Linked DNA regions of Homo sapiens: regions 1, 2, 3 and 4 are each linked to region 5. Evidence: fine-mapped expression QTL. A gene starts in region 5. Each other region holds a variant in brackets. All regions are shown on one strand. Distances are between the middles of the regions. Region 1 has its middle 25 kb from the start of LINC01348. Region 2 overlaps RBM34 (RNA binding motif protein 34). Region 3 has its middle 13 kb from the start of TBCE. Region 4 overlaps ARID4B (AT-rich interaction domain 4B). Region 5 holds the start of TOMM20 (translocase of outer mitochondrial membrane 20).

Region 1 (5,103 bases), 33 kb after region 5:
GTTGGGATTCTACAGGCGTGAGCCACCGCGCCCGGCCAAAAAATTTTTTAAAAATGATTAGCCGGGCATGATGGCATGTGCCTGTAGTCCCAGCTACTGGAGAGACGAGCAGGAGGATGGCTTGAGCCCGCCAGTTTGAGGTTACAGTGAGCTATGATTGCATAACCTGGGCAACAAAATGGGATCCCGCCTCAAAAAACAACAACAAACCCCCAGAAAACAAAAAAAACCCTTTCCTTGGTTCTGTCTACGGAGGTGACATTTATCTCCTACTCTGAATGATGGCTCCCTCAGACCCCTCATGGAGCCCAAGAGCATCCAAAAGAGGATCAAAAACTTCATCTGGCACCAGTTAGACCAGTTCCTGGTCCACTACATCAAGAAACTGGAAGTGCTGCTGATGGGCAGTGAATCTGACTGTGCAGGGACCGCTCGCCGTGCCTCCTCCAAGAACCAAGAACCGCAACGCTGTTTCGGGAAGAGCAGCCCAGCTGCCGTCAGAGTCAGCAATCCCAATGCTGGGCTGCCCCGCCAAGAAAATGAATGGGCAGCCATGTGTACATATTATTTGTGTTTAAATAAAGCCATAAAATCTGAAAGAAAAAAAACAAACCAGGCGCGGTGGCTCATGCCTGTACTGTAATCCCAGCACTTCGAGAGGCTGAGGCGGGTGGATCACCTGAAGTCAGGAGTTCGAGACCAGCCTGGCCAACATGGTGAAACCCCCATCTCTACTAAAAATACATAAATTAGCTGGGCATGGTGGCGGGCGCCTGTAGTCCCAGCTGCTCAAGAGGCTGAGGCAGGAGAATAGCTTGAACTTGGGAAGTGGAGGTTGCAGTGAGCCCAGATCGCATCACTGCACTCCAGCCTGGGTGTCAAGAGCGAGACTGTGTCTCAAACAAAAACGAAAACAAAAACAAACAAAAAGAGTGAAGAGTATGCTCGGGCTGTCTAGCATTGTAGAAGGGCACCTCCACTTTGGAGAACTTTCTTTCGGCTGCCTTGTCTCTCTCTTCTCTCCTAAGTGGACCAAGGGACAGGCTTCCATGGCTTTCTTCCAAGCTAGAAACACCAGCAGGTCACTACTCATGTTGTGTATTTAGAAACCTTATTTAAAAAACTGGATTGCAAAGTAGAGAGTAGCTCAAAGGATGAAGCAGTTTTTTCCCCAATGGTTTTTGTGAGTCTATTACCAATGGCCTAATTTTGCTTTAATCAAAGGTTTTTATGATGCTAACTGATGATGTCTAAACACAAATAAAGGTTTTGTTTTGTTTCTGAGAATAGTGGCTTAAAAAATACTAACATGGAAAAATAATGGATGATTTTGCTGATAGTAGTACTGTTTGCAGATTTGTTTGCAGTACTGTTTGCAGATTTGTTTGCAGTACTGTTTGCAGTTTTATGGTGAAAGAAAATAATTTAGCAGCTAAGGCGAGTTTGTGCCTTGCCTTAGCACATGGTCACTTACGAACTGTGCGGTGTGGGTCTACACCTAGAACTTTCCCTCAGAACAGAGATTTAACAATTAGATGACACTCAGGAAGCTTCCTTTAAACAAGCAAATATTTCCAGTTGACAACAGGAATGTAAACACGACTCCAATCAGTGAATATGCTGAAAGCTCTTTCCTATCTGCGGTATTAGCTGTGCTCAGTGGAGAGGGTAACGTTTCTTCCTTTGTCTCCTCACATACTCATCTCCAATTAAATTACTTACCATCAATTCATAGACCTTTAGGGCTAAGCTAATTTTTAAACACTGACAAAAATTCTACAAAGAGCATCTATAAAACAGGTTGGGAGAGTGTCCTCAGAAGTTGAACCTAGAACCATGTCCTGGGTAGTATTCTCTGCATTGCCTTGTGGGGTCGTGTGTGGGAAAACATTCTTTTTTGTTTGTTTTTTGAGATGGAGTCTCACTCTGTCTCCCAGGCTGGAGGAGTGCAGAGGTGCGATCTCGGCTCACTGCAGCTTCCGCCTCCCTGGTTCAAGCGATTCTCCTGCCTCAGCCTCCCGAGTAGCTAGGATTACAGGTGCCCACTACCACACCCAGCTAATTTTTGTATTTTTAGTAGAGACGAGTTTCACCACGTTGGTCAGGGTGGTCTCGAACTCCTGACCTCAGGTCATCTGCCCGCCTCCGCCTCCCAAAGTGCTGAGATTACAGGCGTGAGCCACCGTGCCTGGCCACACGTGGAAAAAACATTCTGATCTGGCTGGGCGCGGTGGCTCACGCCTGTAATCCCAGCACTTTGGGAGGCCGAGGCGGGCGGATCACGAGGTCAGGAGATCAAGACCACCCTGGCTAACACGGTGAAACCCCATCTGTACTAAAAATACAAAAAAAAAAACAAACAAAAACAACAACAACAAAGAAAACATTAGCCGGGCGTGGTGGCGGGCCCCTGTAGTCCCAGCTACTGGGGAGGCTGAGGCAGGAGAATGGCTTGAACCTGGGAGGAGGAGCTTGCAGTGAGCCGAGATCGCGCCACTGCACTCCAGCCTGGGCGACAGAGTGAGACTCCGTCTCAAACAAAAACAAAAACAAAAAACCAAAACATTCTGATCCATGAACCTTTGGATTTCTCTGGGAGGAAACAGGTCTCTGCTCCAGCACTTCGCACTTATTATGGGGCTCTTGGGAGAAGGCAAGAGGGAGAGATGGAGGATGTTGGTCTCCATGCAGGATCACGGCTGCCGGGCACGGTGGCTCACGCCTGTAATCCCAGCACTTTGGGAGGCCGAGGCGGGCAGGTTGCCTGAGCTCAGGAGTTCGAGACCAGCCTAGACAACAGGGTGAAACCCCGTCTCTACTAAAATATAAAAAATTAGCTGGGCACGGTGGCGTGTGCCTGTAGTCCCAGCTACTCGGGAGGCTGAGGCAGGAGAATTGCTTGAATCCAGGAGGCAGAGGATGCAGTGAGCTGAGCGCCGCCTGGACGACAGAGTGAGACTCCATCTCCAAAAAACAAACAAACAATAAAAAAGATCACGGCTTCTCTGGAACAACAGCTCAAGCTGTGTGTGTGATAGTTAACTTTATGTGTCAACTGGGAGGGTGTTTTTGTATGAGATCAACATTACAGCCAGGCATGGTGGTGCACACCTGTAATCCTAGCTACTTGGGAGGCTGAAGTGGGAGGATTGCTTGGGGCCAAGAGTTTGAGGCTGCATTGAACTATGATTGTGCCACTGCACTC[T/C]AGCCTGAGCAACATAGCAGGATCTCATTTTATATTTAAAAAAATCCCAAAACATATTGGTAAACTCTGAGTAAAGCAGAGGCCCTCTCTAATGTCGGTGGGTCTCATCCAATCAGTTGAAGATCTAAGTAGAACAAAAAGACTGGCCTTCCCAAGCGAGGGAAGTTATCCGGCAGAACGCCCTGGGACTTCTCTGCACCTTCCGCTCTCCTGGGTCTGGACTGTGCTGGCCCACGCCTTGGGTTTAGGACCTGCCAGCCTCCACAATCACGAGCCCATTCCTCAACGTGAAACTCTTCCTCTCTCTACACACATCCTGTTGGTTTTGTTTCCCTGGAGAACTGTAATACAGCATGTCCCGCTGATCCTGGCTTATTTGTACCAGATCTTAGACTTTCAGTCAAGGGGCCCTCATAGATAAACTGCTTCAATCTTCCAGGAAACCCCTATACCAAAAACTCATGCTGCTCGGCCCGCCTCTCAGCGCCTTCTTGGTGTGCTTGGGCGCCATCTAGTGCCTACCGCAGGCACTGCGATGACCTACCCGCCTCTTTCATCTCTATCATCACCGGTTTAATTCCTTAAGCACATATTAGTAGACCTCCATATTCGTGTGCATCATTCGCTCTTCTGTTCGCTCAACAAACATTTAGCGAAGGTTTGTTTATGCACAAGGCATTGCCACAGATGCAAGACCGCCCAGCAGGTGGCTTCTCCCCTTTGTGGAACTCACAGATCAGCTGGAGACAGGGAATAAATGCAGATTACAGTCAGGTGAGAGCAGGGCCACGCGGAAAGCATGATAAAGAGCTCAGGAGCTAAGGGGGTGAGCAAGGGGGACTGCGGGGAGGGCCACTGTCGATGCAGTGTTTACTGCGTTCCAGGCGTGGAGTGGGCTCTGGACACACAGGGGTGACCGTCACTCCCCGTAGCAGCATCCAGCCTGCTGGGGCCTCCTCTCCCCTGCTTGCATTCGGATTGCGCTCTAGGACAGTTCGTGATGGTCCCCAGGCCACAGCACCGAGAATGACTTCCTTGCATTTGCCAGAGTGTGGCAGTGGTTCTTCAAAAATCAGGCTCTGCACTTGGAAGCTCCAGGCGAGACACTTGGGCTGCAGCTCCTGAGGGCTGCCTTGCTGGGAAGGGGTGGGGACGTCCCGCCGGGGATCAAGGTGAAGGTGGGTGTGTGGCCGGATCCCTGCTTGTTTCCTGCTCCCTAGGGCCTAACTCCTCACCCCTCACTCTGCTGAGAATTGATGAGGAGGAAACAAGGGGAAGGCTTTGGGTCCTCGTACCCCTGTTGTCCAGGCTCCCGCCCCGTTCGGACGACCAGCGCTTCCCGGCTCCCCGTCATGCTTCCCCATGGGACTCCAGTCAGCAAGGATCCCGCTGAGTTCACACGTGCTCAGGGAGTGGCCCTGAGACTTGGGTGCTCCTTCCCATGAGGCTGACTGTGCTGGCGAAGCCACTGTAAGCCAGTAGTAATGATCACTCCGGGCCTACTGTGTGCTAGATGCTGAGTGCTGTTACTTAAGTCACCTCTAACCCTCTAACCTTTTTTTTTTTTTTTTTTTTTTTTTTTTTGAGACAGAGTTTCACTCTTGTTGCCCAGGCTGGAGTGCTGTGGCACAATCTCGGCTCACTGCAACCTCCGCCTCGCGGGTTCAAGTGATTCTCCTGCCTCAGCCTCCTGAGTAGCTGGGATTACAGGCATGTGCCACCATGCCCGGCTAATTTTGTATTTTTAGTAGAGATGGGGTTTCTCCATGTTGGTCAGACTGGTCTTGAACTCCCGACCTCAGGTGATCTGCCCGCCGCGGCCTCCCAAAGTGCTAGGATTACAGGCGTGAGCCACCGCGCCCGGGCAGTCACCTCTAACCCTTCTAAACCTTTCTAGG
Region 2 (5,103 bases), 25 kb before region 5:
GCTGCAGTGAGCTGTGATTACGCTGCTACACTCCAGCCTGGGTGACAGAGCAAGACCCTGTCTCAAAGAAAAAAAAAAAGAGCTTAACTTTTTCTAAATCTTGAGTTAAATCATTTTTTTTCTAAAGATACTAGTCAGTTTCTAGATAGCGCTGCTCTAAAAATTTTGATATATTTGTGAGTAGTAAATCTAGGAAAATTCAGAAGACATTGGGAAATATTTCTAGTCGGGAGGGTAGGGCTGTGCTTTGTCAAATACTAGACCTAACTGGCATGACTCTTACTGCTTATTTTATTTTTTGCCTTAAAAAGGGAAAGCGCTCTAGCGAGTGCTGATTTAGAAGAAGAAATTCACCAGAAACAAGGGCAGAAAAGGAAAAATTCTCAACCTGGTGTTAAAGTAGCAGATAGAAAAATACTTGATGACACAGAAGACACAGTTGTCAGTCAAAGAAAGAAAATTCAAATCAACCAAGAAGAAGAGAGATTAAAGAATGAGAGAACTGTGTTTGTTGGGAATTTGCCTGTTACATGTAATAAGAAGGTGAGTTTGTATATGGTAAAAGTTCAGAGAAGTTAATAACTTTGTTCTTCCTGTGTTGAATAAGCATTCAATAGTAAGTCATGGATATAACTTCATTGTAAATTATTACATAAATCATCCTAATATGAATGGATTCCAGTATCCACCCCCTCCTTTTCATTCCTGTAGTCCCTGCCAATTCAGGCTTTTGCAGATTATATTTGAATATTGCAGTGACCTCCTGCCTGGTTTCTTTCTTTCAGCCTTGTCTCCTGTTATATGCCACTAGAAAGTAAGCTCCATATGTTTAAAGATGTCTTTCCTTTTTCTTTTCTTTTTCAGGACAGGTTCTCACTGTCACCTAGGCTGGAGTGTAGTGGCATGATCATTGCTCACTGCAGCCTCAAACTCCTGGACTCAAGTGATCTTACTGCCTCAGCCTCCTGAGTAGCTGGGACTACAGGCGCACGCCACCGTGCCTGGCTAATTTTTGTGTTTTTTTTTTTGTGACTATGTTGCCCAGGCTGGTCTCAAACTCCTGGGCTTAAGTGATCTGCCCTCCTTAGCCTCCCAAGGTGCTGGGACTTCAAGCATGAGCCACTGGGCCTGATCCTCTTTTTTCATCATTCTGTCTCTCTCTCTCTTTTTTTTTTTTTGAGACAGAGTCTCGCTCTGTTGCCCAGGCTGGAGTGCAGTGGCGCGATCTCTGTTCACTGCAAGCTCCGCCTCCTGGGTTCACACCCTTCTCCTGCCTCAGCCTCCTGAGTAGCTGGGACTACAAGCGCCCGCCACCACGCCCAGCTAATTTTTTGTATTTTTAGTAGAGACGGGGTTTCACTGTGCTAGCCAGGATGGTCTCGATTTCCTGACCTTGTGATCCGTCCGCCTCGGCCTCCCAAAGTGCTGGGATTACAGGCATGAGCAACCGCACCCAGCCTCGTTCTGTCTCTTGACACCTGAAATGGTGCCTTGTGCATAGTAAATATGTGTTGTTTAAAGAATGAAGATGTCCTGAGTTTCTTCCGTTGTGTGACGATCACTGAAGCAAAACCTGCCCTTTGCTTCTGCATGTTCATGTGATAGTAACTGTTGCAATCCTTAGCTCGGTATCCTGCTCATATTTTGAAGGACAGTTTAAACTCTACTTGATTAAAAACAGTAGAAAAACCTTTTTGAGGCCAGGCGTGGTGGCCCACACCTGTAATCCCAGCACTCTGGAAGGCCAAGGCGGGCGGATCCCCTGAGGTCGGGAGTTCGAGACCAGCTTGGCCAACATGGTGAAACCGCTTCTCTACTAAAAGTCCCAAAAATTAGCTGGGTGTGGTGACACATGCCTGTAATCCCAGCTACTTTGAAGGCTAAGGCAGGAGAATTGCTTGAACCCAGGAGGGGGAGGTTGCAGAAGCCAAGATCGTGCCACCGCACTCCAGCCTGGGTGACAGTGAGTGAGACTCTGTCTCAAAAAAAAAAAAAAAAGTTTATTCCTGGTTTAAACCAATGTGAAAACATGAGAGAATCTATGGAAGTTATAAGTCTATCCTTAATTTACATGTGATAAAGGTTATAAAAGATTGAAAGAAAAGCATACATCCGATGGATACTAATAGGAGCTTGAATTGTGTTTTCTTTTTTTTTTTTTGAGACAGAGTCTCACAAGTTTCAGTAAAATTTTTTTGTTCATCCAACTGAATAGTCACCTACTTTCCTGAAATGTTCTTAAAAACTGGCAGTAGGCCGGGTGCGGTGGCTCATGCCTGTAATCCCAGCACTTGAAGAGGCTGATGTGGTTGCATCACCTGAGGTCAGGAGTTTGAGACCAGACTGGCCAACATGGCGAAACCCCGTCTCTACTAAAAATACGAAAATTAGCTGAGCATGGTGGCGGGCGCCTGTAATCCCAGCTACTTGGGAGGCTGAGGTATGAGAATCACTTGAAGCCGTGGGGGCGGAGGTTGCAGTGAGCTGAGATCACACCACTGCACTCCAGCCTGGGCGAAAGTGCAAGACTCTGTCTCAAAAAAAAAAAAAAAAGCCTGGCAGTAGAGGATTATCAGACAATTTTTCTTAATTCCTTTTTGTAGCACTTATTTGATGTTCTGAAGGTCAGCTAATGTGTATTTTTTTTTTTAATTTTAGAAGCTGAAGTCGTTTTTTAAAGAGTATGGACAAATAGAATCTGTACGATTTCGTTCTCTGGTATGTTTCATTCCCCCGTAAAATTACATAATATTAAAATTTATTGCATTTAAATCAGATGAACTTATTGCTGTTAGTGAGATGGTGAAGCACTTTAACCTTTTGAATCAATAGGTTCAAATTTAACCCAAGAAAAGAGTTGCTCTTACTATCTACTGCTGACTCTTGAACTTTTTAAATAATGTATTGAGTTTACTTAATAAAATGATACTCTTGCTATGAAAGCCTGCAATGTACTTTGGAGGGTGGATGGGTGACTTATTTACTGTGTCAGCAGAATAGACTGAAAAGTTAATACTGATTATCATTGCTGGAATCCTAGGCATTCTCTTCCTATGTCCCATCATAC[A/G]CATTAGTATGGGAGGTGGGTATGATTGCTGCAAACAGTCTTTGTTCTCTGAGCACAGACAGATAAAGAATTTATGTCAATTTAATATTAAAACTTTATAGAAGTGAGTTGGATTTTACCAGCTCAGCACTCTGAACCAGTTATAGCCACATTCTTTGGAGCAGGAAATAAGTATCATTTATATTTGGTTTTCCCATACATGATTTTTTTTTTTAACTGCATAGGCATAGTTAGTTGACGTACCATAGTGTACATTTTTGGGCACTATTACATAATTAATGTATATTAGAATATAGGAAATGTTTATTCTATTTTTTTTTTTGAGACAGAGTCTCGCTGTGTCTCACCCAGGCTGGAGTGCAGTGGTGCGATCTCAGCTCACTGCACCCTTCGCCTCCTGGGTTCAAGCAATTCTCATGCCTCAGCCTCCCAAGTAGCTGGGATTACAGGTGTGCGCTACCATGCCCGGCTAATTTTTGTATTTTTAGTCCGGACAGGGTTTCACCATGTTATCCAGACTGGTCTCAAACTCGTGACCTCAGGTGATTCGCCTGCCTCAGCCTCCCAAAGTGCTGGGATTACAGGTGTGAGTCACTGCACTTAGCCTTTTTCATGTTTCTAATTGCTCTTTCTCATGTGATTCTCTGGAATAGAGTTTCTCAACCTCCATACAGTTGACATTTTGGGCTGGATAATTCTTTGTTGTTGGAGGCTGCCCTTTGTATTATAGGATGTTTAGTAACATCCATGGTCTTTACCCACTAGATGCTGGTAGCACCTCCTGCACCTCAGTTTTCACAATGGAAAATATCTTCAGGAATTGCCAAATGTTAGAGGAGGCACAACTGCCCACTTCTATAGAAGTAGACGTTACCCAAAGCTTTGACAGTGCCCATAATTTCTGTCAGGGTATTTATTTCCCACTCTTATCACATATCTTTTGTCTGCCCTTCTGAGTTCCATTTCCCTGTATTAGACCTTTGGCTGATGCATTAGTGTGGGTGTCTTGCCAGACCCTGATTTCAATATATCTGCTTACTTCCATCCATTCTCACCCCAACCCTATGCTGCCTACTGATTTTTCTGTGGTATTTAGTGGCACCCAGGCTGCAGGTTTTGTGGTTGCCTTTGACTCTTCATTGGCTCACCCATGCTAGTGTTTGCCACTCCTGTCCGTTTTTCAACTGTGATTTCTTCCTAATATGAGTCATTCCTTTCTTTTTTCCTTGTCCTACCTAAGTTCTCATTACCTCCTGTCAGAATAGTCGCAGAGGCCTATTGTAGTTCCTTACCTTCAGTCTTCCTCTAATTTGTCCAACAAAACACTGTGAACTCAGTCTTCCTGAAGCTCTTCTTCCCGGAACCCTTACCTCTTTCCCTGCCTTGCATTAATGAAACGCCCTTCCCCCCATCCCCCCAGCCGCCACACACACACCCCTCACGGGGCCTGCTATTGCCTTCTCCCCTTTGGGGAGCCTACCTTGATTCTCCCCAGTCTCTAGGCTACCAGTGTGTCCCTGCTATGCATTTGACAGCACCCATCCCTCATTACAGTACTTAGTACACTCTACTGAAATTGTCGTTTGCCTCCTCCACCAGACTGTAAGCTGTGGTTACAAATACTCTGTCTTACTTCTTCTTGGGTTACCAGCACCTGTACATTGTGTTAATTATTCTGTCAGTGAAATACATCCTTAATTCTTAGCTTGGCAGTTCTCCAGTGTGGCCCTGCCTCTCCTGTGTTCCTCTACACGTGGGTTTTCTCACCTTTGTCCCTTTGCCAGTCCATTTGTTTTGCCTGGAATCCTTCCTTAAAGTACCATTTTTGCCTATGAAAGTATTTTTCAGTATGTGGCTAAAAATGTCCCTTCTTCAAAGCTTTTCCGATACTTTATATCATTAAGTGATATTTTTTCCTCTGCATTATTCCTGTACTTTATTGCCTTATGTTGTACTTATGTATTAATATCTTTAATGACAGGATGTAGGCCGGGTGCAGTGGTTGATGCCTGTAACCCAGCACTTTGGGAGGCCAA
Region 3 (5,103 bases), 230 kb before region 5:
CCGTAGCCCAGGCTGGGGTGCAGTGGCTCGATCTTGGCTCACTGTAACCTCCACCTCCTGGGTTCAAGTAATTCCCCTGCCTCAGCCTCCCAAATAGCTGGGACTACAGGCATGCACCACCACACCTGACTAATTTTTGTATTTTTAGTAGAGGTGGGGTTTCACCATGTTGGCCAGGCTGGTCTCAAACTCCTGACCTCAAGTGGTTCACCCACCTCAGCCTCTCAAAGTGCTAGAATTACAGGCATGAGCTACTGTGCCCAGCCCCTGGCTAACTTTTGTATTTTTAGTAGAGACAGGGTTTTACCATGTCACCATGTTGGCCAGGCTAGTCTTGAACTCTTTGTTTGTCTGTTTTTTTCTTTTATTTATTTATTTATTTATCATTATTATTATTTTTTGGTCTCAAACTCCTGACCTCAGGTGATCTACCCGCCTCGGCCTCCCAAAATGCTGGGATTACAAGTGTGAGCCAGCAGATCCAACCTTTTTTTTTTTTTTTTTTTTTTCTGGAGCCAGTGTCTTGCCCTGTTGCCCAGGCTGGAATGCAGTGTTGTAATTTTGGCTCACTGCAACGTCAACCTCCTGGGCTCAAGCAATCTTTCCACCTCAGCCTCCCGAGTAGCTGGGACTATAGGCACTTGCCATCACGCTTGGCTAATTTTTAAATTTTTTTTGTAGAGACAAGGTCTCACTATATTGCCCAGGGTGGTCTCCATCTCCTGACCTCAAGCAATCTTCCCGCTTTGGCCTTCAAGTAGCTGGGACCACAGGTGTGCATCATTATGCCTGGCTTTTATTTATTTATTTAGAGACAAGGTCTCACTATGTTGCCCGGTCTGGTCTTGAACTCCTGGGCTCAAGCTATCCTTCCCTCTTTGGCATCCCAAAGTGCTGGAATTACCAGCATGGGAGCCATCTTGCCTTGGCAAAGCTGTTTCAAAAAAAAAAAGAAAACCTGGGCGCAGGGTCTCACGCCTGTATTCCCAGCACTTTCGGAGGCTGAGGCCGGTGGATCACCTGAGGTCAGGAGTTCGAGACCAGCCTGATAACATGGAGAAACCCTGTCTCTACTAAAAATACAAAAAATTAGCCGGGCATGGTGGCACATGCCTGTAATCCCAGCTACTCAGGAGTCTGAGGCAGGAGAATTGCTTGAACCCGGGAGGCGGTGGTTGTGGTGAGCTGAGATCGTGCCATTGCAATCCAGCCTGGGCAACAAGAGCGAAACTCCATCTCAAAAAAGAAAAGAAAAAAATACTCCTATACGTGGCATGCCAGGATCAGTGCTGAGGCCCCTTCTTTTCTTTCTTACACAATATCTCTAGGTAACCTATCCAATCCTGGGCTTAAGTGATCACCAATGATCCACAAATCTAACTTCAGCCTTGCTTGAATCTCCCCTGAATCTAGCCTGTGCATGCAGTGACATTTCCTCCTGGATGCTTGATAGGCAGCTCTAATTTCCCCCTAATACCTACCCTTTCCCTGTCTTCCTAAGTCTGATTTATGATTTATCACCATCTACTCAGTTTCTTATAAAAAATCTAAAGACCATCCTTGACTCCTCTTTCCATTAACTCTACATCCTATCCACCAGTAATTCATATAAACTCCACTTTCTAAATAATCCCCAATTCAACTACTTCATACCATGTTCTCTGCTACCACCATCTCTCACTGGACACTCAAACACCCTCCTAATTGGTTTCCTTACCTCCTCTTCTGACTCTCTGTAGTCCATCATCCACTCAGATGCCAGGATGATCTTTTATAAAGGTAATTCAGATCTAGTTACTCCCCTTCTTTTTTCTTTTCTTTTCTCTCTTCTTTTCTTTCTTTCTTTCTTTTTTTTTTTTTTTTTTTGACAGAGTCTTGCTCTGTCACCCAGGCTGGAGTACAATGGCGCAATCTTAGCTCACTGCAACTTCCGCCTCCTGGGTTCAAGCAATTCTCCTGCCTCAGCCTCCCGAGTAGCTGGGATTACAGGCGCACACCACCACACCTGGATAATTTTTTGTATTTTTAGTAGAGACAGGGTTTCACCATGTTAGCCAGGCTGGTCTCGAACTCCTGACCTCATGATCCGCCTGCCTCAGCCTCCCAAAGTGCTGGAATTACAGGTGTGAGCCACTGCGCCTGGCCTTTACTCCCCTTCTTCTTTTTTTTTTTCTTTTTTGAGATGGAGTTTCACTCTTATTGCCCAGGCTGGAGTGCAATGGCACAATCTTCCCTCACTGCAACCTCTGCCTCCTGGGTTCAAGTGATTCTCCTGCCTCAGCCTCCCAAGTTTCTGGGATTACAGGCATGTGCTACCACGGCCAGCTAATTTTGTATTTTTAGTAGGGATGAGGTTTCACTATGTTGGTCATGCTGGTCT[C/T]GAACTCATGACCTCAGGTGTCAAACTCATGACCTCAGGTGGTCCACCCACCTTGGCCTCCCAAAGTGCTGGGATTACAGGCGTGAGCCACGGCACCTGGCCTTACTCATTTTCTTAAAACCATCCATCGGCTTCAAGTTGCAGTTAGTTTTAAAACCTAAAGTCTGGCTGGGCGCAGTGGCTCATGCCTGTAATCCCAGCGCTTCGGGAGGCCGAGGGAGGTGGATCACCTGGGGTCAGGAGTTTGAGACCAGCCTAGCCAATATAGTGAAAACCCGTCTCTACTAAAAATATAAAAAGTAGCCGGGTGTGGTGGCAGGTGCCTGTAATCCCAGCTACTCGGGAGGCTGAGGCAGGAGAATCGCTTGAACCCGGGAGGCAGAGGTCGCAGTGAGCCGAGATCGCGCCACTGCACTCCAGCCTGGGGGACAAGAGCGAGACTTCATCTCAAAAAAAAAAAAAAAAAAAAAAAAAAAAAAAAAAAACCCAACCTAAAGTCCTTTCTATGATTTACAAATTCCTACACAATCTAATACCTATGTTGCTTTGTACATATTGGCACCATTCTTTCCCACCTTATGACCTTTGTTGGCTATTCCTTTGGTTTCAAATGTTCTTTACTAGGATTGTGGTATAGCTAATTTCTTATCATTCAGAGCTCAGCTTAAATGCTACTCCCTCAGAGGTCTTCCCCGGATACCCAATGTAAGTAGCCACTCTTGAAATTATCTGCTTAGCATTTATTGTTGGTTTTCTCATTTACTGGTGCCTTTATTTTTTAAATTTCAATATTTGAATAGATGACATGTTCACATGCTTCCAAAAAATGAAAAGTAATAAATAGGTATACAGTGAGAAGTCTCTCTTGCTCCTCCCACCTCCTAGTCCTCTGTCTCCCAGGTCCTACCCCTAGATATTTTGTGCAAATATTTTTCTTTTTTTTTTGAGACGGAATCTTACTCTGTCTCCCAGGCTGGAGTGCAGTGGCACATTCTCAGCTCACTGCAACCTCTGCCTCCTGGGTTCAAGCAATTCTCCTCCCTCAGCCTCCTGAGTAGCTGGGATTACAGGTGTTAGCCATCACGCCTGGCTAATTTTTGTATTTTTAGTAGAGACATGGTTTCACCATATTGGTCAGGCTGGTCTCGAACTCCTGACCTCGTGATCTGCCCGCCTTGGCCTCCCAAATTGCTGGGATTACAGGCGTAAGCCACCATGCCCGGCTTTTTCCTTCCTTCCTTCCTTCCTTCTTTCTTTCTTTCTTTTGTTTTTTTTGTTTGTTTGTTTTGTTTTTTTTGAGACAGTGTCTTGGTCTGTTTCTCAGGCTGGAGTGCAGTGGTGCAATCTTGGCTCACTGCAACCTCTGCCTCCCGGGTTCAAGCAATTCTGCTGCCTCAGCCTCCCAAGTAGCTGGGACTACAGGCGCGCGCCACCATGCCCGGCTATTTTTTTGTATTTTTAGTAGAGATGGGGTTTCACCACGTTGGCCAGGCTGGTCTCAAACTCCTGACCTGGTGATTTGCCCACCTTGGCCTCCCAAAGTGCTGGGATTACAGGCGTGAGCCACCGCTTCTGGCCTTATTTTTTTTTTTCACAAATAGTAACTTACTATATAATCTCTTATAGAATCTTTTGCTTTCTTTTTGTCTTCATGTAGCTGGGAGATCTGGCTAACTTATTATTTATTTATTTATTTATTTATTTGAGACAGAGTTTTGCTCTTGTCGCCCAGGCTGGAGTGCAGTGGCATGATCTCAGCTCACTGCAACCTCCCCCTCCCAGGTTCAAGTGATTCTCCTGCCCTAGCCTCCCGAGTAGCTGGGATTATAGGCATGCGCCACCATATCTGGCTAATTTTGTATTTTTAGTAGAGACAGGGTTTCTCCATGTTGGTCAGACTGGTCTTGAACTCCCGACCTCAGGTGATCTGCCTGCCTCAGCCTCCCAAAGTGCTGGGATTATAGGCTTGAGCCTCTGCGCCCAGCCTGACTAACTTATTAGTAGGATTTTAGATAGTTCAGAGTACAATAGGAGGGCAGGAGAACCGGGTTCAGGTTCAAGACAAAGAACTGAGACAAAGAACCACAGCAACAGGTACCATTTGGCCAACATATGCTGCCAGATAAGTGAAGCGTTTTCTCCACTCAAGAATCTCCTTGGAGACAGTCCAACTGGCCAAGATTAGGTCATGTATCCAACCTTTGACTGTACAGGTCACTGAGAGGAAAGATATAACAATGTCCTGATACCCCTTGGCTTCTGTATGGGTTACTTTGGCTGTGCCCAACTGGGGAGAGGTAATTCACCAAAAGGAAATTAAACTGTGATTAGGAAGAATTAGGATGGGAGAATAGCCAATAAACAAGGGTATTAATAGCACCTACAGAGTTCATGCCTTTTTATGCATTAAGTATACCTTTTATATATTAAGTATATATTTAGTAAAACAAAAAAAACTAGGTCAACAGTAGAGGTCCAAGAGTATTGTTTTTCTTTTAAAGGACATGGTACATTATTTGAATTGGAAAAATCCTGCCATGAATCCATGTTAAAGAGATGTTTTCCAGCTGCCTTACTATGAAGTCAGCGTCTCACCAGCAGAGTGCAATTGGTCTGTAAGGCATAACAAAAAGACCTTGTATTAAGTCAGTCATAGCCTTTGAAAGGCCATTAGTTAACCAAAGGCCATATTTAAGTTTTGCTTTGTAAGGTCTCTACGAAAT
Region 4 (5,103 bases), 110 kb before region 5:
TGATAGGAAACAGATTGATGAGCTACTAGGCAAAGTTGTATGTGTAGATTACATTAGTTTGGATAAAAAGAAAGCACTGTGGTTTCCTGCATTGGTGAGTAGCTTCAGTATACAAGAGTTTAATTTCAAACTTTATAAGTTTATGAAGAAAACAATTTTCTTACTAATGTTTTTCATAGGTACAAAATGAGGAAATGTTTTTAGCATTATTTAGTTCACACTAAGCTTACTTTCAACGTTGTCTTTGAATACAAAGAACTCTTGATGTCATTCAGGAAAGGCAAAATCTTGATAATCTTAGAGGTTTAGCTATGTGGAAGTTGAATTCTCTCTCTCTCGGTAGAAAATTCATGATGCAAACTTTTAAAGCTCCTAAGTCCATGTAGGTCTAGATTGCAAAAGAACAACAGAATCTTTCTTGGTTGACAGGGATAACTAGACCTTTTCCTCATACTTAGTGAATCAGGGTGTTTCCATCCTTGATCTTAATCTTGCCTTTTAGGTACTCCCTATATAATCATGACTGCAATTATACATTACCCCACTCTTCAATTTTCTCTACAGTAGATTGTTAATTCTACCTACTTTTTAATGTTTTTCTCTCCAAAAGATTGCAATTCCTTAGATTCCAGGTTGAATATTTTGCATTTTTTCCTTGTTTTCTCACGTTGCCTTTTTGTGATTCTGAGGAGGTACTCAAGATTTATTATCAGGAGTATCCTCATGATTGTCCCAAGTTCTTGTATTTCAAACTGTTAAGACATGACAGAAAGCCTTTTGAGCTTTTTATCTCTCTGTTTTTCGTAACCACTAGCTTCTTTAGCAAGTTGAAAGGGCCATGTATAGACCATTTTCTTTGACTTTTAGAAAGGGAACATATACTAATATCTTTCACGGACATAACTAGGCTGCTTTTCAAATAATCTTTTGGTAGACAAAATAATTTGTAGCTCTTAAAGCAAATAGAGGTTCAACTAATAATTAGCTATATATGATACTTTAATGAAGATTTAACTCTGTGGCAATAAGAATGCATTTTTTTCTGGACAGCATATAATTGGATAAATCACTTAAGGTTTTAAATTTCAAGTAGGAGACTGAAGTTAATAATCAGTATCTCTTAAGAATTATCTTGGCTGGGGTGTGGTGGCTCACACCTGTAATCCTAGCACTTTGGGAGGCCGAGGTGGGCAAATCCCCTGAGGTCAGGAGTTCGAGACCAGCCTGGCCAACAGGGCAAAACCCCGTCTCTACTAAAAATACAAAAAAATTAGCTGGCTGTGGTGGCACATGCCTGTAATCCCAGCTAGGCAGGAGAATAGCTTGAACCCAGGAGGCGGAGGTTGCAGTGAGCCAAGATCGCGCCACTGCACTCCAGTGTGGGCGACAGAGCAAGATTCCCTCTCAAAAAAAAAAAAAAGAAGAAAAAAAAAGAATTATCTTGAACTCTTTAAAATTTTGATATGTCTGAATTGTCCTATGATGATTTTATCTGAAGACCATTGAGTCATTTGCATCAAACAGTGAGATCCACTTTTTTTTTTTTTCCCCGGAGACAGAGGCTTACTCCGTTACCCAGGTTAGAGTGCAGTGGTGTGATCCTGACTCGCTGCAGCCTTGACCTCCTGGGCTCAACAATTCTCCCACCTCAGCCTCCTGAGTAGCTCACACTACAGGTGGAGACCACCACATCTGGCTAATTTTTAAATACTTTGTAAATACGAGGTCTCCCTATGCTGCCCAGGCTAGTCTTAAACTCCTGGATTCAAGTGACCTTCCCACCTTGGCTTCCCAGAGTGCTGGGATTACAGGTGGGGGCTACTGAGCCCAGCCCACATCTTTTACAAATATGTCCTCCCCTCACTTCATATTTAATAAGCTATAAACTGAAGATCCGCTGATAAACAAAAGACACTTTGAAAGTACTATTCTCACGTTTGACAACTAATTTGTTCTCAAATATCGAGAGACAGAATGGGTCAAAATTATTCTCTGTCTCTGTTTTGTATGTTCTCACTCCCTTACTAAAAATAATTAGCCAAATTCTCCTCTAATGCTTTTTTCCCTTATGTTAATGACATTCAATAAAATTTTTGTGTTCTCAAGATTAACACATATTTGTTAGGTATGCATTTATCATATACCAAGTTCTGTTCAAAATATTTAACAAAGATAGACTCATTTAGTGGTGTAGAGGTTTTTTGTTCTCATGATTAATAAACTTTCCTTTTTTCTTTTCTTTTCTTTTCTTTTTTTTTTTTTTGAGATGGAGTTTCGCCC[T/C]TGTTGCCCAGGCTGGAGTGCAATGGTGCGATCTCGGCTCACTGCAACTCCGCCTCCCAGGTTCAAGTGATCCTCCTGCCTCAGCCTCCCGAGTAGCTGGTATGACAAGCCACCATGCCCGGCTAATTTTGTATTTTTAGTAGAGACAGCGTTTCTCCATGTCGGTCAGGCTGGTCTCCAACTCCTGACCTCAGGTGATCTGCCCGCCTCAGCCTCCCAAAATGTTGGGATTACAGGCATGAGCCAGCACACCCGGTGATGATTAATAAACTTTTCTCTACAATTTGTGCTTGAGAATCTGCTAACTCTTTATTCTCATTCTCTCATTTTCCTGCTCATTGACTAACAATTGCAGAGACTTAGAAATGGGATTAAAACACTGTCCTTTGTTTATATGTATTTGTATGAAAACTTATGTCCATAATATATATAAACTCTTTTGTATATTTGTGGTTTTTGTGCTAAACTAGGTAACCATGGTCTCAAATGAAAAAGAAACAATAGAACTACCTTTGTTTTTACTGTTTTCTACTTGTGATGTCCATTTACCCTTTTTAGTCAACATGTCTTATTTCTTTATCTCCACTGCTTAGTTCAGTGTTCGGCACAAATTAAATATGCAGTAAATGTCAGCTCTTGTAATGATAGTGAAAAATGAGGACAATTATTTGTTTTAATAAATATAAATATTTTATAATACCTTTGTACCTTCCTGTGTATCCAACATTTAGTGGATACCTATATGTACAAGGAGTGTGCTAACACCTATTATGAGATAGGTATTATTATTTATCCCGATGTAGAGATAAGGAAACTGAGTATTAGCAGGGTTAAGTTAGTTGCCACACTTTGGGTTAATTATTAAGCTGAAAAAAAGCATCAGTGTTTGCGATTCTTTCTTTCTTTCTAAAGCACTAGGAGTCTTTGTGAGTTTCTTTTGAAAGTATGTTTTAAGGCCAGCTGCAGTGGCTCACACCTGCAGTCCCAGCACTTTGGGAGGCCGAGGCAGGCGGATCACCTGAGGTCAGGAGTTCAAGACCAGCCTGGCCAACATAGTGAAACCCCTTCTGTACTAAAAATGGAAAAATTTGCAGGACATGGTGGTGCGTGCTTATAGTCCCAGCTACTCGGGAGGCTGAGGCAGGAGAATCGCTTGAACCTGGGAGGCGGAGGCTGCAGTGATCTGAGATCACACCACTGCATTCCAGCCTGGGTGACAGAGCAAGACTTTTATCTCAAAAAAAAAAAAAAAAAAAAAAAAAAATATATATATATATATATATATATATATATTTTTTATAAAACCGTTTTGTGGGCCAGGCGCGGCGGCTCACACCTGTAATCCCAGCACTTTGGGAGGCCGAGGTGGGCAGATCACTTGAGGTCAGGAGTTCAAGACCAGCCTGGCCAACATGGTGAAACCCTATCTTTACTAAAATACAAAAATTAGCCGAGCATGGTGGCGGGAGCCTATAATCCCAGCTACTTGGGAGGCTGAGGCAGGAGAATTGCTTGAACACGGGAGGTGGAGGTTGCAGTGAGCTGAGACCGTGCCACAGCACTCCAGCCTGAGTGACAGAGCAAGACCCCATCTCAAACACACACACACACACACACACACACACACACACACAACTGTTTTGTAAGTCTTTTTCTCAATAGGAACATTAAATTTTTTAATATTAGTGTTTTGAGTTATTAATTTAAGCTTCTCACACCATAATCACTAAAAAGTTTCTTTGACGAAAATGAAAAATCTAAGGATTTTTAATATTGAAAGGTTAGTAATCTGTTTAGTCAGCCATTTCACTGTTGTTTTTAAATTCTTAGAATTATTGATGTATGTTATCTCCTCCCAAAATTGAGATCCATTGGACGGTGATGGATAGTTTTTGGTAACTAGAGTGAAAAATTATGTTCTAAATCGACCAATCTTGATATAATCGCACAAATAGTATTTGTGTTTCTAATTTATGTTATTTTTATAAATCGAGTAAATTCAAAGTGTTTTAGTAACATCATAAGAAAACAGTTAACTGGGTCTGGGTGGCCTGTGCCTGTAGTCCCAGCTACTTGGGAGACTGAGGTGGGAGGATCGATTGAACCCTGGGAGGTTGAGGCTGCATTGAGTCGTGATCACGCCACTGCACAGAGTGAGACCTTGTCTCAAAAAAAAAAAAAGAAAAAGAAAAAGGAAACAACTACATAGTCCCAGGAACTATAAATAACTACCATGCACTGAGTATTTACCCTGACTAGGACTGTGCTGAGCTTATTAATATAAGTAGTATTGTTTAATCCTAATTGAGACTTACTCTCAGTCTCAATTTTTTATTTTCCAATTTCATTTTAAGAGGGGGAAATCTTAGATTCCATGGCTCATGCAGTTCTCCTTTTCAGTTTTTTTCACCAGGTTCTCCTCTTCTAATCACCCTTTCAAGCTGTAATTCAGGATTCAGAATGTATCGCTGTATTTTCTTTACGGTGATCTCATCTCCTTTTAAAGCTTCACCTTGCAGAGATAGCAAAGAGATAAAGTGACCAAGAAAATAACATACATGGGTGAATGGGATAAAATGCATATTGTCGTTCTGTGGCAGAACTGGACAGTGAGCCCACTTACTCATACACCAGTGTCATCACTGGCCAAAGCTATCACATGTGCAGTTTTCGAAATCCTTCGCTCATCAGGGAAAAGTAATGAGTGGATTTGGCTCACAAGCCCCAAGTTTTAGACCCCTAATATTTAGGCTGTGGGCTCTCAAATTTATATCCTTGAGTCCAGACCTCTACGCTTTGCTCCAGACCTGATTTTTCTGTTCA
Region 5 (5,100 bases):
AAGGGTTCTTGGATCTTGCCTAAGAAAGAATTTGGGGCCAGTCCACAGAGTAAAGTGAAAACAAGTTTATTAAGAAAATAAAGAAGATCACTCACGGTGGCTCATGCCTGTAATCCCAGCACTTCGGGAGGCCGAGGTGGGTGGATCACCAGATGTCAGGAGTTTGAGACTAGCCTGGCCAACATGGTGAAACCCCATCTCTACTAAAAATACAAAAATTTGCTGGGTGTGGTGGCACATGCCTGTAATCCGAGCTACTGGGGAGGCTGAGGCAGGAGAATCGCTTGAACCCAGGAGGTGGAGGTTATAGTGAGCCAAGATCATGCCACTGCACTCCAGCCTGGGTGACAGCAAGACTGTCTCAAAAAAAAAAAAAAAAAAAAAAAAAAGTGAAAGGTTACTTTGTAGAATGGTGCATACCCTAAAGCAAGAGAAGGAACATGTCCACCTTAGGTACAAGGCTTGTTTGTATTGAACAGCAAAAAAATGAGGAAGATGAGCTCTACTCCAAGAGCTTGTGACAAAGGATTTTTTGTGTGTTTGTTTTGAGACGAGGTCTTACCCTGTCACCCAGTTTGGACTGCAGTGGTACAATCATAACTCAACTGCAGCCTCAACCTCCTGGGATTAAGGGATACTTCCGCATCATTCCCCATGTAGTTGGGACCACAGGTGTGTGCCACCACGCCTGGCTAAGTTTTTAATTTTTTTGTGGAGACAGGGTCTCACCATGTTGCCCAGGCTGGTGTTGAACTCTTGGGCTCAAGCTATCCGCCCATCTGGGCCTCCCAAAGTGCTGGGATTACAGGTGTGAGACACTGCCTGGTCTTTGTCAAAGGACTGTTAATCCTGTGTAACTACTGTCTTCTGCAAGGATCAATATTATCTTTAAAGGGAAAATTAAACTAAGAATGCTTTTGTTCTTAAGATATCAGGACATCAGGACATTTCCTGGGTCTGTTAGGTAAACATTATTAACTTGTTCCCTTCCCTGTAAATATCCTGTGACCAAGAATGCCAAACTTCCTGGGAATGTGCCCCAATAGGTCTCAGCCTCATTTTACCCAGCCCCTATTCAAGGTAAGGTAGCTCTGGTTCCAATGTCTCTTGACACTGATGCTTGACTTCGATACCCCTCAACTTACAGTGTCTGTTTAATGCCTGCTTTCTGCCCACGATTTTCCTTGTCAATATCTTAAGTTAGATCATATATATATATATTTTGTTTTTTTGAGACGGACTCCTGATCTGTCACTCAGGCTGGAGTGCAGTGGCTCGATCTTGGCTCACTGCAACCTCTGCCTCCTGGTTCAAGCGATTCTCCCGCCTCAGCCTCCAGAGTAGCTGGGATTACAGGCCCCGGCCACCATGGCCAGCTAATTTTTGTATTTTTAGTAGAGACAGGGTTTCACTATGTTGGCCAGGCTGGTCTCAAACTCCTGGCCTTAAGTGATCCGCCTGCCTCGGCCTCCCAAAGTGTTGAGATTACAGGCGTGAGCCACCGCGCCTGGCCTGATCATGTGTATGTTTTCGTGTGGCTATAAAACAATTCACGTTTTCTATTTTTTCTTCAATTGTGTATATTTTTCAAGAAATTACTCCATTTAATTTTATTCCAGTTATCATAAAATGAGGCTATCCTGTAACATTCTTTTGAAATGGAACCACTACGCACAATGGATTGTGGCAACCTGAAAAGAAAGTACAGTTTAATTCAAACAAGTCACAGGCTGCCTGTGTTAGACAAGATGAAGCATTCGCAGTCTGGGACCCTGCATCTCTGTCTGCCACAAACAAGGCTGTCAGCTAGTCTTCTGAGTACGTGCACGCCAGTAACGCGTACGCCTCGTTACAGCATGGTCGGCGGATATGAAAAAAAGTCCGTGGTCACGTGCAAATTCCCGACTCCAGTGCGTACACCCAGCGGCGCAGGGGAAACGCCGGCTTCGCCCACTGCGCAGGCGCAGGAGCCGCGCTCTGGGCCTCTGCTCAGGCTCTGCCGCGGACGACCTCGAGGCCCTTAGTTGACTGGGACCGGAAGTGGCGTGTGCTCGGCCTTTCTGTGTTCCTGGCCCGCGGCCGTCGGGTGTGAGCTGCGCCGACCGCTCTGAGGGTTCGTGGCCCACCGCTCCTTCGCGGTCCCTGCCGCCACCGTCCACGCTCAGCGTTGTAGAGAAGATGGTGGGTCGGAACAGCGCCATCGCCGCCGGTGTATGCGGGGCCCTTTTCATTGGGTACTGCATCTACTTCGACCGCAAAAGACGAAGTGACCCCAACTTCAAGAACAGGCTTCGAGAACGTGAGTGGGTCCTCTCTCCCCTGGCCAGGCTTGCTGCCTTCGGCCGCCGCCCTTCACAGGAGGGGTCATTGCCTCCCACCAGCCTGTGGGCCGCGCAGGGCGACCGCGTGGTGCGGCCCTCAATAGGCGATGGCGCTGGCTGCGCCGCTCCGGGGGCTCTAGTGCCCCGTAGGAATTCCATTTTGGAGGAAGGATTTTTCCCGTTTTGTTTTCCCCAGACACTTTAGCCGTGCAAATGCACTCTTGATTTCTGTTGCAATCTCGGGTGTGTGTGGCCTGGGGAGGAGGTTGTCTCTTTTTTTGTCGTTCATCTTTTTAAACCTCTACTCTTAACTAAAAAGTCGTGCATTTTTGTCGCAAATTTTAGTCTGAGGCTAAATCCGCATGCTCAGTGCAGTATCATTGTTGCATTCTTTTTTTTGAGACGGAATCTCGCTCTGTCGCCCAGGCTGTAGTGCAGTGGCGCGATCTCGGCTCACTGCAACCTCCGCCTCCCGAGTTCAAGCGCTTCTCCTGCCTCAGTCTCCCCAGTAGCTGGGATTACAGTCGGGCGTCACCACGCCCGGTGATTTTTTGTGTTTAGTAGAGACGGGGTTTCACCGTGTTGGTCAGGCTAGTCTCGAACTCCTGACCTCAGATGATCCGCCTGGCTCATTGCTGCATTCTTAAACCCTCTTGGTAGCTTCGTTCTAAGTGCTTCCAAGATATGAGTGAATGCTATAGAAATTGCAGGGGAGTCCAAAGGGCTGCGCTTCTCCCGTGGCTCAGTCTTATTTCATACCTGCGACATCTTTTAAGAGAGGTCTACCAGAGGGGAATCGTGTCATGAAAACCGTTGTGATCCACCTTGAATTTTCGGAGAATCTTCATTCGCATCATTGAAGAGCAAATTTGTTGCAATAAGAAATATTTTTTGGCTTATCTTGGTTGTTCAGCCAAATTAGTTTTTGGAATTAAAATTGATACGTAAGTTACTAAAGCCCAAGGGGTACAAAGAAGGGATTATTGTTTACTTAAGTAACAGTGGTTACGGTTTAATTCAGCTATACTAAGTCATTTCAAGTGTTCAGTAGCCCTGTGTGAGCAGTGACTGCAGCGCTGATCTTACTAGCACTAAGAATCAGACATCTAGTTCCAGCTTTCTTATGTTTTAGGAGGGAAGGGATATAGACATAATTTGATTTATGACTAGGCAGACTAATAGAATACTGTTTTACATTCAGACCTTGAATTTCTAGGGCCAGGTTAGCGGCATAATTTGGGGTTTCTGAATCCTAATTTCTGTAGTTGTAAAATCAGGTAATGCCACCTACCTCTTGTTGATCTTGTGAAGGTTGAGATGTTTGAATTGCCTTCCACGTTTTCTGACATAGGAAATGCTCCTCCATAAATGCTGGTGGTCATTCTGCCTTCGGGTTATTGTCCTGTAGTTGCCAAAATGGGTGACAGCTGGGGGCTTTGGTACAAATGCAGAGTTATAAAGAATGGATTAACCCTATCTTCCGTTGGAAACCCTGAAGTCCTGTTGCAGAAACAAGAGCTATCATTTTAGACAAATGGAGGAATGTTATTTCAAAATAACTTCTCCATCATTTTCAATCTAAAATTGTTTTTTCTGGATTTAGCGGCAACCTAATGATTACAGTGAATTACTTAGCTGCAGCAGTAACTTTAGGCAAGTAACTTCAAGCTTTAGTTTTCCCTTTTTGTAAAATGGTATAGTGTAGAGTTTTAGTCCTGTTCCTCACACATGGTAATTGATGAATGCTAGAGATTTTTTGTTGTTGTTGTTTGTTTGTTTGAGTCTCGCTCTGTCGCCCAGGCTCGAGTGCAGTGGGGTGATCTCGGATCATTGCAACCTCCGCCTCCCGGGTTCAAGCAATTCTGCCTCAGCCTCCTGAGTAGCTGGGATTACAGGCGCACACCACCATGCCAGGCTAATTTTTGTATTTTTAGTAGAGACAGGGTTTCACCATATTGGCCAGGTTGGTCTCGAACTCCTGACTTCATGATCTGCCCGTCTCAGCCTCCCAAAGTGCTGGGATTACAGGCGTGAGCCACCGCGTCCGGATGAGATATTTTTATGAGTAGAAATATTTTGTTGTTTGATGTTTTTGTAAAATTTATTTAGAATAATCTTGCAGTCTGTTCACAGGTAATTGAGGCTGGGTGTGGTGGCTCAACGCTAGTAATCTCAGCACTTTGGGAGGCCGAGGTGGGCGGATCACCTCATGTCAGGAGTTCAAGCAGCCTGGCCAGCATGGTGAAACCCCCACTCTGCTAAAAATACAAAAATTAGCCGGGTGTGGTGGTGCACGCCGGTAGTCCCAGCTGCTTGGGAGGCTGAGGCAGAATTGCTGGAATGTGGAAGGTGGAGGTTGCAGTGAGCAGAGACTGCACCACTGCACTCCATCCTGGGGGGACAGAGCAAGACTCTGTCTCCAAAATATACGTGTGTGTGTGTGTGTGTCTTTATATATATTTATATCTATATCTATCTATCTTTATCTATCTATCTATCTATCTAATCTAATCTATCGACCAGGCGCAGTGACTCACGCCTGTAATCCCAGCACTTTGGGAGGCCAAGGTGGGAAGATCATGAGGTCAGGAGATCGAGACCAGCCTGGTCAACATGGTGAAACCCCGTCTCTACTAAAAATACAAAAAAAAAAAAATTAGCTGGGCGTGGTGGCACGCACCTGTAGTCCCAGCTACTTGGGAGACTGAGGTAGGAAGATCGCTTGAACCTGGGATGCTGAGGTTGCAGTGAGCCGAGATGGCGCCACTGCACTCCAGCC

What was found. PIP is the estimated chance that this variant, and not a neighbour inherited with it, causes the effect.
Region 1: its variant is the best candidate, but not a certain one, in a credible set for the expression of TOMM20 in tibial nerve (GTEx, PIP 0.69).
Region 2: its variant is the best candidate, but not a certain one, in a credible set for the expression of TOMM20 in esophagus muscle (GTEx, PIP 0.77).
Region 3: its variant is the best candidate, but not a certain one, in a credible set for the expression of TOMM20 in nasal epithelium (TOPMed, PIP 0.53).
Region 4: its variant is the best candidate, but not a certain one, in a credible set for the expression of TOMM20 in whole blood (TOPMed, PIP 0.68).

Annotation. Positions count from the first base shown.
Region 1 is chr1:235,092,626-235,097,728 of GRCh38, reverse strand. No RefSeq gene overlaps it. Among named protein-coding and RNA genes, the nearest start is that of LINC01348, 25 kb to the right of the region's middle. RefSeq lists enhancers at 3,689-3,848, 3,814-4,397. The variant T/C (reference allele first, on the strand shown) is at 3,206.
Region 2 is chr1:235,150,321-235,155,423 of GRCh38, reverse strand. It overlaps RBM34 (RNA binding motif protein 34), which reads left to right. Exons shown (of 11, transcript NM_015014.4): 4 at 312-543; 5 at 2,659-2,718. Among named protein-coding and RNA genes, the nearest start is that of RBM34, 8.4 kb to the left of the region's middle. The variant A/G (reference allele first, on the strand shown) is at 3,068.
Region 3 is chr1:235,351,543-235,356,645 of GRCh38, reverse strand. No RefSeq gene overlaps it. Among named protein-coding and RNA genes, the nearest start is that of TBCE, 13 kb to the left of the region's middle. The variant C/T (reference allele first, on the strand shown) is at 2,381.
Region 4 is chr1:235,235,304-235,240,406 of GRCh38, reverse strand. ARID4B (AT-rich interaction domain 4B) reads left to right here. Exons shown (of 24, transcript NM_016374.6): 8 at 1-94. Among named protein-coding and RNA genes, the nearest start is that of MIR4753, 48 kb to the right of the region's middle. The variant T/C (reference allele first, on the strand shown) is at 2,281.
Region 5 is chr1:235,125,794-235,130,893 of GRCh38, reverse strand. TOMM20 (translocase of outer mitochondrial membrane 20) reads left to right here and starts at 2,057. Exons shown (of 5, transcript NM_014765.3): 1 at 2,057-2,299. The coding sequence starts at 2,179. SNORA14B (small nucleolar RNA, H/ACA box 14B) reads left to right here and starts at 2,957; the gene lies at 2,957-3,091. It overlaps LOC105379283 (a long non-coding RNA gene), which reads left to right and starts at 2,693. Exons shown (of 2, transcript XR_949295.4): 1 at 2,693-3,265; 2 at 3,925-3,975. RefSeq lists enhancers at 1,780-1,879, 2,110-2,329.